Homo sapiens: one gene and its partner. The protein of the gene in region 1 binds, or shares a complex with, the protein of each later gene. Each region holds a gene or a part of one and is shown in the gene's direction. Other genes may lie near its edges. The genes, in order: OBSL1 and CUL7.

Evidence for each region.
Region 2: OBSL1 (region 1) and CUL7 share a complex: the UniProt entries of both Homo sapiens proteins name them as parts of the 3M complex.

The regions. Positions count from the first base shown.
Region 1 is NC_000002.12:219,550,130-219,554,722, reverse strand, and holds the end of OBSL1 (obscurin-like protein 1 isoform 1 precursor), read left to right. Parts: coding exon 1-249; intron 250-1,036; coding exon 1,037-1,149; intron 1,150-1,698; coding exon 1,699-1,855; intron 1,856-2,025; coding exon 2,026-2,187; intron 2,188-2,506; coding exon 2,507-2,611; intron 2,612-2,924; coding exon 2,925-3,194; intron 3,195-3,437; coding exon of another isoform or gene 3,438-3,481; exon of another isoform or gene 3,482-3,854; coding exon of another isoform or gene 3,855-3,880; coding exon 3,881-3,888; coding exon of another isoform or gene 3,889-3,898; 3' UTR 3,899-3,995; downstream 3,996-4,593. UniProt on the Homo sapiens protein: Core component of the 3M complex, a complex required to regulate microtubule dynamics and genome integrity. It is unclear how the 3M complex regulates microtubules, it could act by controlling the level of a microtubule stabilizer.
Region 2 is NC_000006.12:43,043,669-43,050,949, reverse strand, and holds part of CUL7 (cullin-7), read left to right. Parts: intron 1-551; coding exon 552-690; intron 691-790; coding exon 791-987; coding exon of another isoform or gene 988-1,014; intron 1,015-1,287; coding exon 1,288-1,543; intron 1,544-2,380; coding exon 2,381-2,618; intron 2,619-2,696; coding exon 2,697-2,802; intron 2,803-2,960; exon of another isoform or gene 2,961-2,973; coding exon of another isoform or gene 2,974-3,003; intron 3,004-3,842; coding exon 3,843-4,070; intron 4,071-4,348; coding exon 4,349-4,439; intron 4,440-4,542; coding exon 4,543-4,714; intron 4,715-4,858; coding exon 4,859-4,964; intron 4,965-5,267; coding exon 5,268-5,363; intron 5,364-5,547; coding exon 5,548-5,723; intron 5,724-5,803; exon of another isoform or gene 5,804-6,064; coding exon 6,065-6,198; exon of another isoform or gene 6,199-7,281. UniProt on the Homo sapiens protein: Core component of the 3M and Cul7-RING(FBXW8) complexes, which mediate the ubiquitination and subsequent proteasomal degradation of target proteins. Core component of the 3M complex, a complex required to regulate microtubule dynamics and genome integrity.

The DNA.
Region 1 (4,593 bases):
TGCGGCCTCTGGAGGACGTGACCATCAGTGAGGGGGGCAGTGCCACCTTCCAGCTGGAGCTGTCCCAGGAAGGTGTGACCGGGGAGTGGGCCCGGGGTGGAGTACAGCTGTATCCAGGACCCAAGTGTCACATCCACTCGGACGGCCACCGTCACCGACTGGTACTCAATGGCCTGGGCCTGGCCGACTCAGGCTGTGTCTCCTTCACAGCGGATTCCCTGCGCTGCGCAGCCAGACTCATTGTGAGAGGTGTGGCCTCCAGGACCACAGCCTGCCTGCTGACCTGTGTGGCCCTACTTACCCCAGGCATGAATACTGACCCCCAACTCGTGTGACCCCCACTGACCATGCCTGTCTCAGTGTGGCCCTCATTGACATCCCTGCCAGAGTGTGATCCCCCTGACTCATAGGCCCTGTGTGGCCCCAGAGTCCTCTGCCTGGGTGTGGCCCCTGACTGCCCAAGGCTCAGCCAACCACTGACTCTGCTACCAAGAGCATGCCTTTGCCATTGTGGTCACTGCTGTCTGCCCGCCTGCACACCACCCCACTGACCACTCTAACTGTGACCCTACTGGCTACACTGTCTGCCGTGGCTCCCTCTGCCCGCCTAAGTGTGGGCCCCGTGACCACTCCAGTCCCTTGAATCCACTGACTGCCTACGGGCGACATCACTAGCAAGTCTGCTTGAGTGTCCCCCATTTTTACTTCCAGTCCCAGGATGTTCCCACTGACCACTCCACTGGCATCTCTGCTTGTTTCCCCATTGCCCTCTGGCCCCCAGCTTCTCCCCCACTGACCACCTTAAAGTGTGACTCCCAGTTGGCCACTCCTAACCCATTGGCCCTGTGGCCCTGCCCACCTACATCCCCCCCACCCCCACCACTGACAGATCCTTCTTGGACCACTTGTCCCAGCTCGAACCCCACTCGCTAGTGTCCTCTACTGCCTGTTGTGCCCAAGTGTATGTCCTCCTTGTCCCTGCAAGATGGGTCCCCATCCTGCTCCCTCTGCACTGTCCTCCCTCTCCCACCCCCAGAGGTCCCAGTGACCATCGTGCGGGGGCCACACGACCTAGAGGTGACCGAGGGCGACACAGCTACGTTCGAGTGCGAGCTTTCCCAAGCTTTGGCTGATGTTACCTGGGAGAAGGTCAGATCCCAGCCCCAGCCAAGCCCACTTCAGTGTAACACCAACGATAATAATGCCCCAGACAGAAACAGCTAATATTCCTTGAGCGGATGTGCCTGGCACTGTGCTAAGATTTGCATTATATTTAATCCCTTACTCCAAGGACAACTCTAGGAGGTAGGTCTTGTCACTGTAATACCTATCAGGAAACTGATGCTCAGTGGGAAAAATTACCTACCCAAGGGCAGACAACAGGTAGAGCCCATATTCGAATCCAGGTTTGCCTAACTCCAGAATCCGTGCCCATGTCCCCTGTGATCGATACCTGGCTCTGGGCTTCCCGAGTGCCTTGGCGGCCCTAAGGTCCCCAAAGGGTGACGCTTTTTCAAAGAGGCTCCTGGCACGACCCCAAAGGCTTGGGGACAGTCCGACCCCAGCCTGGGAACACGAGACACGCATAAACGCGCCTCGAGACCGCTTGGCATCAACAAAGGGTGCGCCGCCTGCCAGGGCCGGGGTCGCCTGTGCCCAGCCGGGCTCGCCCCGACCCTCTGCAACTCCCGCCCCTAGGACGGGAACGCGCTTACGCCTAGCCCGCGGCTCCGGCTCCAGGCCCTCGGCACGCGCCGCCTTCTCCAGCTGCGACGCTGCGGCCCCTCGGACGCCGGGACCTACAGCTGCGCGGTGGGGACGGCCCGCGCCGGACCGGTCCGCCTGACCGTGCGCGGTGGGTACGGGGTGATGTGGAGGCTGGGCACTGCTTTGGGCGCGAGACTTGCGGAGCTGTCTTCCCCGGACCCTGATGACCGCGCGTGCTTCTAGAAAGGGGGCGTGGAGGGGGCGTGACCGGTAACTGCCCTCTGCCCCGCCCCGCTCACGCCCCGGGCTCCGCCCCAGAGCGTACTGTGGCGGTACTCTCCGAGCTGCGGTCGGTGAGCGCCCGCGAAGGCGACGGCGCTACGTTCGAGTGCACCGTGTCGGAGGTCGAGACCACGGGGCGCTGGGAGCTCGGAGGCCGCCCGCTGAGACCCGGAGCCCGCGTCCGCATCCGACAGGAAGGTCTGCCCGCCTGGTTACCCTTTCGGGCCCCTCGCTGCCCCGCCCAGGCTCGAACAGATCCCGCCCCACCGGGACAAGCCCCGCCCCTGGCTCCGACGGGCCCCGCCCCACGGCCCTGTGAGCCTCGTCCCTGTTCTTTCCCCCGCCCCCAGCCCCTAGTCCCGGACCTCTAGGCTTCCCGCTCCGCATCCCTGTTCCGCCCACCCTAGCATACACTAACGGCGTCCGAACCGACCCAGGGGCCTGCTGGGCCCCCACCTTCGTCCCCAACGCTCCTCAGAGGTGGCTCCGGCCTCGCTAGCGACCCCCTCACCCCCAGGGAAGAAACACATTCTGGTGCTTAGCGAGCTGCGCGCCGAGGACGCCGGTGAAGTCCGCTTCCAGGCGGGGCCCGCCCAGTCCCTGGCTCTACTGGAAGTGGAGGGTAAGCACCTGGGGTGGGAGCGACAGAGAGTGTACATCCTGTCTCTCCTGCCATGGGACTGACGGACTTGGGGCTGGCCCCAAGAACGCTGCCTCTCTCTTCCCTTCCCCCCGAGGGGCTCTCCTGGGCCGGGTCACAGAGGGCAGCGCGTTTCCCCGGCAAGAGGAGACTTTGGGTCTGAGGTGCAAGGGAACGGACTGGTGGCATAGAGGGCTAAGGCCAGGAGTGGAGACTTCAGGGAGGGAAGATGCATCTCTCCTCCTGGGGGCCATGCGTGTCCCTATTAACTTAAGCCCCCGCCCCCTACCCCCAGCATTGCCTCTCCAGATGTGCCGCCACCCCCCTCGCGAGAAGACCGTTCTGGTGGGCCGCCGGGCGGTGCTGGAGGTGACTGTGTCCCGCTCGGGGGGCCACGTGTGCTGGCTGCGGGAGGGGGCCGAGCTGTGCCCGGGAGATAAGTATGAGATGCGCAGCCACGGCCCCACCCACAGCCTGGTCATCCATGACGTTCGACCTGAGGACCAAGGCACTTACTGCTGCCAGGCCGGCCAGGACAGCACCCACACACGGCTGCTGGTAGAGGGTGAGTAAAGCCAACTGGGCAGCGGCAGGAGGGTGAGGGCGCCTGGGAGCTGATGGGTTAAGCCACACCTATGGGAGGCTTTCCAGAACTTGGGGTGGCAACGGGTCCTGGGATACGTAGGAGGTGGGGATGGGGGAGGGGAGGGGTAGAGCACACCCAGGGCTGGAAAGCCCTGGAACTGCTTGGCTCAGATCAGCTGCTCCTGGTCAGCTGTTCCCACCTTTCTACGCCCCTTCTTGCCAGGCTTCTCCTCTCTCCTGCCACTGGACCATGTTTGTCTCTCTTGAACAGCCCTGTTTCTACCAGTTCCTTTCCTCCCCACTTCACCAACACTGCCTTCCTCCAGCCTGTCCCTCCTCCTTCCTGCCCTCTGCCCAGCTTGCCTCTGCCCATCTCAGCAAGTTCCATGTCAGCCTTGGCAGAAGCCTCTTTCTTTCCTCTTCCCCATAAGAGACATCCCACCTTCTATCCCAAATCCCAGCATTCCCTTCAGGTGCCGCGCTGTGCCCCACCCCTAGCTGACCCCCACCTTCCTGCCGCCAAGACAGCCCTAACCAAGGCCCAGAAAGGGTAGGGCAGAACCTGGGGGCCCAGCTCTTTGTGTACTGGTGTCCAGGCTCTGCCAGGGGAGAGGAAGGTGGTACCCCCTTCTCTCCCCAGCCCCATGTGGAGTCATTCCTCTGCAGGCAACTAGGAGAACCTAACCAGGCCAGGCGGGTGCCCTTGGACAGCTTGGAAGGCGTTTGCCCTTACCCTGGGCAGGGGTAGAGAGACAAGGAACAATAAAAGTGCTACAGCTCATTTCCTTGCCTCTCTGAGTGATGTGGGGGGGCAGACCTTGCCTGGAGCCCCTGTGCAGTGAGCGACACTGGGGACCGAGGGCTGTAGTGCTTGTACCTGGCCCATGAAAGTGCCAGCCACCAAAGACCACCATTCCTGGCAGAGGCCACACAGTTTGGCACATTTATAAAAGATGTAAAACAGAGTGGGGTGGGGGAGACAGAAGCATGAGGTGTCTAGGTTGGCATGACAGACACCAGACATGCACCGTGCATTTAAACCCCTCCCCAACTCCCTTCCCAACCCAGCCCAGAGCAGCACCCCCCCACCCCCATCTCCTGCCACTGCCCTCAGGCTGGTGGCTTTACAGAGGCCAGGGGACCAGGGTGAGGGATGCTACAGTTTGCCCCATAGACAAGGACAAGAACCCTTAGATGAGTCTGGCTGCGAGGCAGGGCGATGGGAAGGAAGGTAGCCCCTCCGCGGAGACATGCAGGAGGTGGCCCATGGGACCTTGGCAGGGAGTGAAGAGGTGGGGCTGAGCCTGGAGAAACCCTACCAGTCAGAAATCTAAGGCAAGGGTCCCAGCGTCCCCTCCAAGCCTGCCCACCCCCACACA
Region 2 (7,281 bases), on another chromosome or scaffold:
TGGGATACTGTTGGGGGTCTATTTGGGGTAGGGCAGAGCTGGGACTTCTATATGGGGGGGCTCCAGCAGGCCACCCAAAGAGAAAGCTTTAGGTAAGATTGGAATGGTGAAAAGAGTCAGTAGTTGAGAGGGGGGCCATTCTGAGAGCTGGGAAAATCTGGGTTTAGGAGGCTGTGAAGTCAAGAAGACTCACACCTGGGAAGAAACTGATATAGCCAGACTCCTCCAAAGGTCAGGGTCAGGGAGATGGAGTGGTGGAGGCCAGAAGGAAGTGTGGGGGCATAAGCCATGAAAGACAGGGTGAGAGGAGAGACAGGCCCATCCCCCAAAGGAGAAGGCATCCTGTGTGTGTGTGTGTGTGTGTGTGTGTGTGTGTGTGTGTGTGTGTGTGTGTGTGTGTATTCTCCATATGCTGCTGTTTTGTTATGTGGAGGTTTTTCTAAAACCTGGCCAGGTGGTCACCCTGAGGGCTATAGTCCTCAGTACTGGGCCACAGCCAGTCATTTGTGAGTCCTCCCTTCCCCTTCCCTCTTTCTTTCCCTATGCTCCAGGTATTTTGGGAGTCAACAGGCCGCACCTATTGGGTGCACTGGCACATGCTGGAGATCTTGGGCTTTGAGGAAGACATTGAGGACATGGTTGAGGCTGATGAGTACCAAGGGGCAGTGGCCAGTAGAGTCCTGGGTAGAGGTGAGCTCAGGGAGGAAGCAAGGGTCAGCTCTGAGCAGAGGAATGGTGGTCCTGCTGAGTTGCTAGTGACATCCTTGTGCCCCTTGGCCCATTTTCACAGCCCTGCCTGCCTGGCGCTGGAGGCCCATGACAGAACTCTATGCTGTGCCTTATGTGCTGCCTGAGGATGAGGACACTGAGGAGTGTGAACACCTGACCCTGGCTGAGTGGTGGGAACTCCTCTTCTTCATCAAGAAGCTGGATGGACCTGACCATCAGGAGGTTCTCCAGATCCTCCAGGAGAACCTAGATGGGGAGGTAGAGCCAGCCTGGAGACACTCAGAGGTTGGAGGGCTCTATTGCAAGGGCTGGACTGTATAGAGCATTTGGAAGGCTCAGGATGAAAAGTGGAGGTCAGAGAGTGGAAGGGGCTGCAGAGGAGGGGTCTGGAATTTTCAGAGGTGGGAGGGTGAGCTGTTTGGGAGGAGCCAGCTGCCAGCTGTGAGAGGATCAGGATGGAGGGTATGTGTGCAGAGAGACCCCCACCCCTACCAAGTGCTCCCTGGGGCCTCTGGGTCGGCAGGGCTGTCTGCAGTGAGAGCTTCTCCTTGATGGCAGATTCTGGATGATGAGATCCTAGCTGAACTGGCCGTGCCCATAGAATTGGCCCAGGACTTGCTGCTGACTCTGCCACAGCGACTCAATGACAGTGCCCTCAGGGACCTGATCAACTGCCATGTCTACAAGAAGTATGGGCCTGAAGCCCTAGCAGGGAACCAAGCCTACCCATCCCTTCTAGAAGCCCAAGAAGATGTCCTCCTGCTAGACGCGCAGGCCCAGGCTAAGGACTCAGAAGATGCAGCCAAAGTGGAAGGTGGGTGCCAGACACAGCAGCTGAGCTGACACACCTTCAGGGCAGTAGCACAGGAGAGATGTCTGTGCTGATTTTTATGCAATCCTTTCTGGAAGTGATGCCACCTTAGAAGCTGCAACTTAGAGAGAAGCAACAAACGGAGAAGCAGGCATTGTGTTCCCTCAAAGAATGAAGGAGGATGTAAAGTTAGAAAATTGCAAGAGAATTTTGAAGACTTAAAAAAGCCCCCACATTTAGCTTTTTCTCTTGTACAGAAACATATTCCATGCTTTGAAATAAAGGGAAGTGCTCTCCTGTTTTCAGATGAAGCTACTTTGCTATTTTAAGAATATAAAGGCCGGGCATGGTGGCTCACGCCTGTAATCCCAGCACTTTGGAAGGCCAAGGCAGGTGGATCATGAGGTCAGGAGATCGAGATCATCCTGCCTAACATGGTGAAACCCCGTCTCTACTAAAACTACAAAAAAAAAAAAATTAGCCGGGCGTGGTGGTGGGCACCTGTAGTCCCAGCTACTGGAGGCTGAGGCAGGAGAATGGCGTGAACCCAGGAGGCGGAGGTTGCAGTGAGCCGAGATCATGCCACTGCACTCCAGCCTGGGTGACAGAGCGAGACTCCGTCTCAAAGAAAAAAAAAAAAAAAGAATATAAAATTTGTCATGAAGCTGTCTTACAATGACATTCAGAGATTAGATCCCCAAACCTAACTTTTAGGGGGATTAAAAAATTTAAAACATTTTTTAGGAGAAATTAGAGAAAAAGATTGAGAGTTATGAATCTATTTCTGAGCCTTCACATTACTAACAATGGCCAACTCCTGTGACTGTCCCCTTCCTGTAGCAAAAGAACCCCCATCTCAGAGTCCCAACACTCCCCTGCAGCGTCTGGTGGAGGGTTATGGTCCAGCTGGGAAAATCCTCCTGGATCTAGAGCAAGCCCTCAGCTCAGAGGGGACCCAGGAGAACAAGGTCAAGCCACTCCTGCTGCAGCTGCAGCGGCAGCCGCAGCCCTTCCTGGCACTGATGCAGAGCCTGGACACTCCGGAGACTAACAGGACCCTGCACCTGACTGTGCTGAGGTGAGAGCATGGTGACAGGTGGGATCTCTGAGGGCAAAGGGGGTCCATGAGGCTGGCTACACATTTCTCTGCCCCCAGAATCCTGAAGCAGCTGGTGGACTTCCCCGAGGCACTGCTGCTCCCCTGGCACGAGGCCGTGGATGCCTGCATGGCCTGCCTGCGGTCCCCAAACACTGATCGAGAGGTACCCCTGCCCTGCTCTGGGGAGAGGCTGGGGGAGAGGATAAAGGCAGCCACTGGCAAGGCACACCTGCTGGGCAAGGCTCTGGAGGGCGTGATAGAGCCTTTGAGCTCTTGGTTTGAGTTTTGCTTTTAAAATTGAATTTTATTTTTTTTAAATAGGTAATACATTCACATGGTTCACAAATCAAAACGCTCTAACAAGGTATACACTGAGAATTCTTGCTCTCACCCAAATCTCTGTTCCCCCAGGGTCCCCCACACACCCCTTACTGGTAACTACTTGTATTAATTTATGTATCTTTCCCGTGTTCCCTTATGCAAATATAAGCAAACCCAAATGTGTGATCTTGCCACTCTCTTTTTTACACAAAAGGATATGGAGATATTATTACATAAAACATTAAGAGCTTCAATAGCTCCATTTTTGGCTGGGCCTGTGGGAGAAAGGGGGATGAAGGAGGCAGAGCGCCCATCACATACCAGAGTCCCCTGCAAGAGCTACAGAGAAGTCCTGGGCACAGAAGGCTTCAGAAGGGCTCAGAGAACTAGGGTCATGGTGACAGTAGGTATTTGCAGTGTGGCTATATTTTTGGCTGTTACCTAGAATTTACTTTCTAAGGCAGGCTCATTGGGTATAATACACACACAAACCCAGTCCCTGTCAGCCCCTTCCCAGCCATCCAGGTGTCTGTGCCTGAACATCTCAAAACACAGCCCTACAACTGGTTTTTGGGACAGTAGGGCCTGGATGAAAGAACCCAGGGATGCTCTCTGCCGTTTTTGCCAACATAATCAGCAGCCTAGAACCCTAGAGTAGCAGGGCATCTTGTGCCCTTTTCCATTTTGGTTTGTCTTTGGTTCTCTAACCACCTGGCTCTTGTGTCTCCCCATCCCTGTCTTTTCACTTCGTCACTCTGCCTTGCTCACTGTAGCACCCCTAGCACCCAGTACACAGAGTACACAGTGGGTACCTGCTACTGCAGGTGCCCTTGTGGCCCTCGCCCTGTCTTCATTCATCTCCTCCCTTATGTCCCCACCCAGGTGCTCCAGGAACTGATTTTCTTCCTGCACCGCCTGACCTCAGTGAGCAGGGACTATGCCGTGGTGCTGAATCAGCTGGGAGCAAGAGACGCTATCTCCAAGGCCCTGGAAAAGCACCTGGGAAAGCTGGAGCTGGCTCAGGAGCTGCGGGACATGGTGTTCAAGTGTGAGAAGCATGCCCACCTCTACCGCAAACTCATCACCAACATCCTGGGAGGCTGCATCCAGGTCAGGAGGAAGGGGAGCTTGTGGGCTTAGAGTGGCATCAGAATATGAAACCCAAGCAGTGGCGGGTAAGGGCTGTGTTCCCATGGCTGGGAACAGCAGGTGACTCTAGTGACCCTGGGGCATTTGTTCCCCTTCCCCTCTGCCCCATCTGGGCCTGCTCTGCTGGTGCTGTAGAGGAAGTCCCACTGCTGCATGGTCTCTCCTTCATCCGTGTTTCCGTGTGTGTCTCCGTGTTCCTTCTGCCCCTGTGCCCCTTCTCTCTGATGTTCTGGCTGCAGATGGTGCTGGGCCAGATCGAAGACCACAGACGAACCCACCAACCCATCAACATCCCTTTCTTTGATGTGTTCCTCAGATACCTGTGCCAGGGTTCGTGCCTGTTGCCGTGTTGCTCCACCTCCCCACACCTATGTCTGTTTCCCCTCTACACCCTACCTGACCGTGACCACCACCCCTTCCCACTTGCCCCCAGGCTCCAGTGTGGAAGTGAAGGAGGACAAGTGCTGGGAGAAGGTGGAGGTGTCCTCCAACCCGCACCGGGCCAGCAAGCTGACGGACCACAACCCCAAGACCTATTGGGAGTCCAACGGCAGCGCCGGCTCCCACTACATCACCCTGCACATGCGCCGGGGCATCCTCATCAGGTAACTCTCCCACACATGTGCTTTGCCACACACGTGTGCTTTCCTGTGACGCCCCTGTGTTTGTTTTGGGGGAAGCACCACCCCCTGGACTTGGCCATGGGCCCTGTCTACAAGTTCCAAATGGTTTTTCCTCCCCACTCCCAGGCAACTGACTCTGCTTGTGGCTAGTGAGGACTCGAGTTACATGCCGGCCCGAGTGGTGGTGTGCGGGGGTGATAGCACTAGCTCTCTTCACACGGAACTCAACTCGGTAGGACCCCAGGGCCATTAGCCATTACTCCACCCCTCACAGGATCTGCCCTCCTGCTTCTATCTGGCCCTATCCTACTTTTTTCTAACTCCCACCTGTCTTGAGCCCCACAGAAAGTAGTGTCCTTTATCCCTGTGCTTGTGCCACCAGGCCCTGAACAATGAGGGTGGCATGAGGACAGCTTTGTCAGGACCCTACACATCCCAGGGCTGGGGAAGGGAGGGAAACAGTGAGGGGACTGGAGCCTAGAGCCAACTTGGCTCTGCATGTGTGGAGGTGACAGCTTTCTCTGCCCCCTGCCAGGTGAATGTGATGCCCTCTGCCAGCCGGGTGATCCTCCTGGAGAACCTGACCCGCTTCTGGCCCATCATCCAGATCCGCATAAAGCGCTGCCAGCAGGTGGGGCCAGGGATGTGGGGTGTGGCCCTGGGTAGGGGGCTCTGAGCCCCATAAACAGGCAGATCTTAAGCCAGAGGACCAGCCTGGGTCTCGAGCAGCTCCAGGGGTGAGGTTCGAGGGCGTAGCTGACCCCAGCCCATCCCAAGGTGTGGAGCGAGTGAAGATAGTCCTGTGTGTGTTTCAGGGTGGCATTGATACGCGCATTCGGGGGTTAGAGATCCTAGGCCCCAAGCCCACGTTCTGGCCAGTGTTCCGGGAGCAGCTCTGTCGTCACACACGCCTCTTCTACATGGTTCGGGCACAGGCCTGGAGCCAGGACATGGCAGAGGACCGCAGGAGCCTCCTGCACCTGAGTTCTAGGTGTGTGAGAGTGTGCGTGTATGCTTGTGTCTGTGGGAAAGGTAAGGCTATTGCAAATAGCTGGCAGGCAGGGGTCCATAGAAGCTGTGAGATGGAGGTTTAATATGCGTGGGGAGGGGGCTGGAGTTTTCTGAGCTGTGGGAGGGGAAGAAAGGATAAAGAGAAAAGATTTCTCCAGTGGGCTGGGAATGGGATATACCAGTTAGCACAGAGCAGTTCTGAAGTACCAGGGGGCCTTCGGTTTGGGTGCTGGGGTTAGCTGGCAGTCTTAGGAAGGGTGGACACTGAGATAACATATGCTTCAAGCCCCTGACACCTTCCTCCTCCATTCTCACCCCCAGACTCAACGGTGCTCTGCGCCAGGAGCAGAATTTTGCTGACCGCTTCCTCCCTGATGACGAGGCTGCCCAAGCTCTGGGCAAGACCTGCTGGGAGGCCCTGGTCAGCCCCGTGGTGCAGAACATCACCTCCCCTGGTAACCATCCTGACATCTGGACCCATTACTATCTCAGGGCTTGGTTCCACTAATTAGTTCCTTCTTGCTCTACCCTAGAACCACCTGGATTATGTCCTGGCCCTTTTGGCACCTGCATTTGTAATCCCAGTGCTGTCTTCTCACAGCCCAGGGGCTGCCCCCTTTCCCATGTCTCTCAAGTGTCAGGGGACACCATAAGTGCTGGAGGTGCCTTGTTACCCACTCCCTTTATCATTCTTCTTTTTTTTTTTTTTGAGACAGATTTTCGCTCGTTACCCACGCTGGAGTGCAATGGCATGATCTTGGCTCACTGCAACCTCTGCCTCCCAGGTTCAGGCAATTCTCCTGCCTCAGCCTCCCAAGTAGCTGGGATTACAGGCATGCACCACCATGCCTGGCTAATTTTATTTTATTTTATTTTATTTTTTTGAGACAGAGTTTCGCTCTTGTTGCCTAGACTGGAGTGCAATGGCGCAGTCTCGGCTCACTGCAACCTCTGCCTCCAGGGTTCAAGTGATTCTTCTGCCTCACCCTCCCAAATAGCTGGGATTACAGGCATGGGCCACCATGCCCAGCTAATTTTGTATTTTTAGTAGAGATGGGGTTTCTCCATGTTGGTCAGGCTGGTCTCGAACTCCCAATCTCAGGTGATCCACCCGCCTCAGTCTCCCAAAGTGCTGGGATTACAGGCATGAGCCACCGCGCCTGACCCACACCTGGCTAATTTTATATTTTTAGTAGAGGTGGGGTTTCTCCGTGTTGGTCAGGCTGATCTCGAACTCCCGACCTCAGGTGATCCACCCACCTCAGCCTCCCAAAGTGCTGGGATTACAGGCATGAGCCACCGCACCTGGCCTTTTCTATTTTTTTATGCTTATTTCTTATTTTTAAAGATGGGGTCCTGCTATGTTGACCAGGCCAGTCTTGAACTCCTGCCTCAAGCGATCCTCTCATCTCAGCCTCCCAAAGTGCTGGGATTACAGGCGTAAACCACCCTACCTGGCCCCCCTTCCTTGTATCATTCCGTCCAGTTGCTCTATCTCCACACTCCTGTTCAGCCCAACCACTCCCACTTCCCTGCAG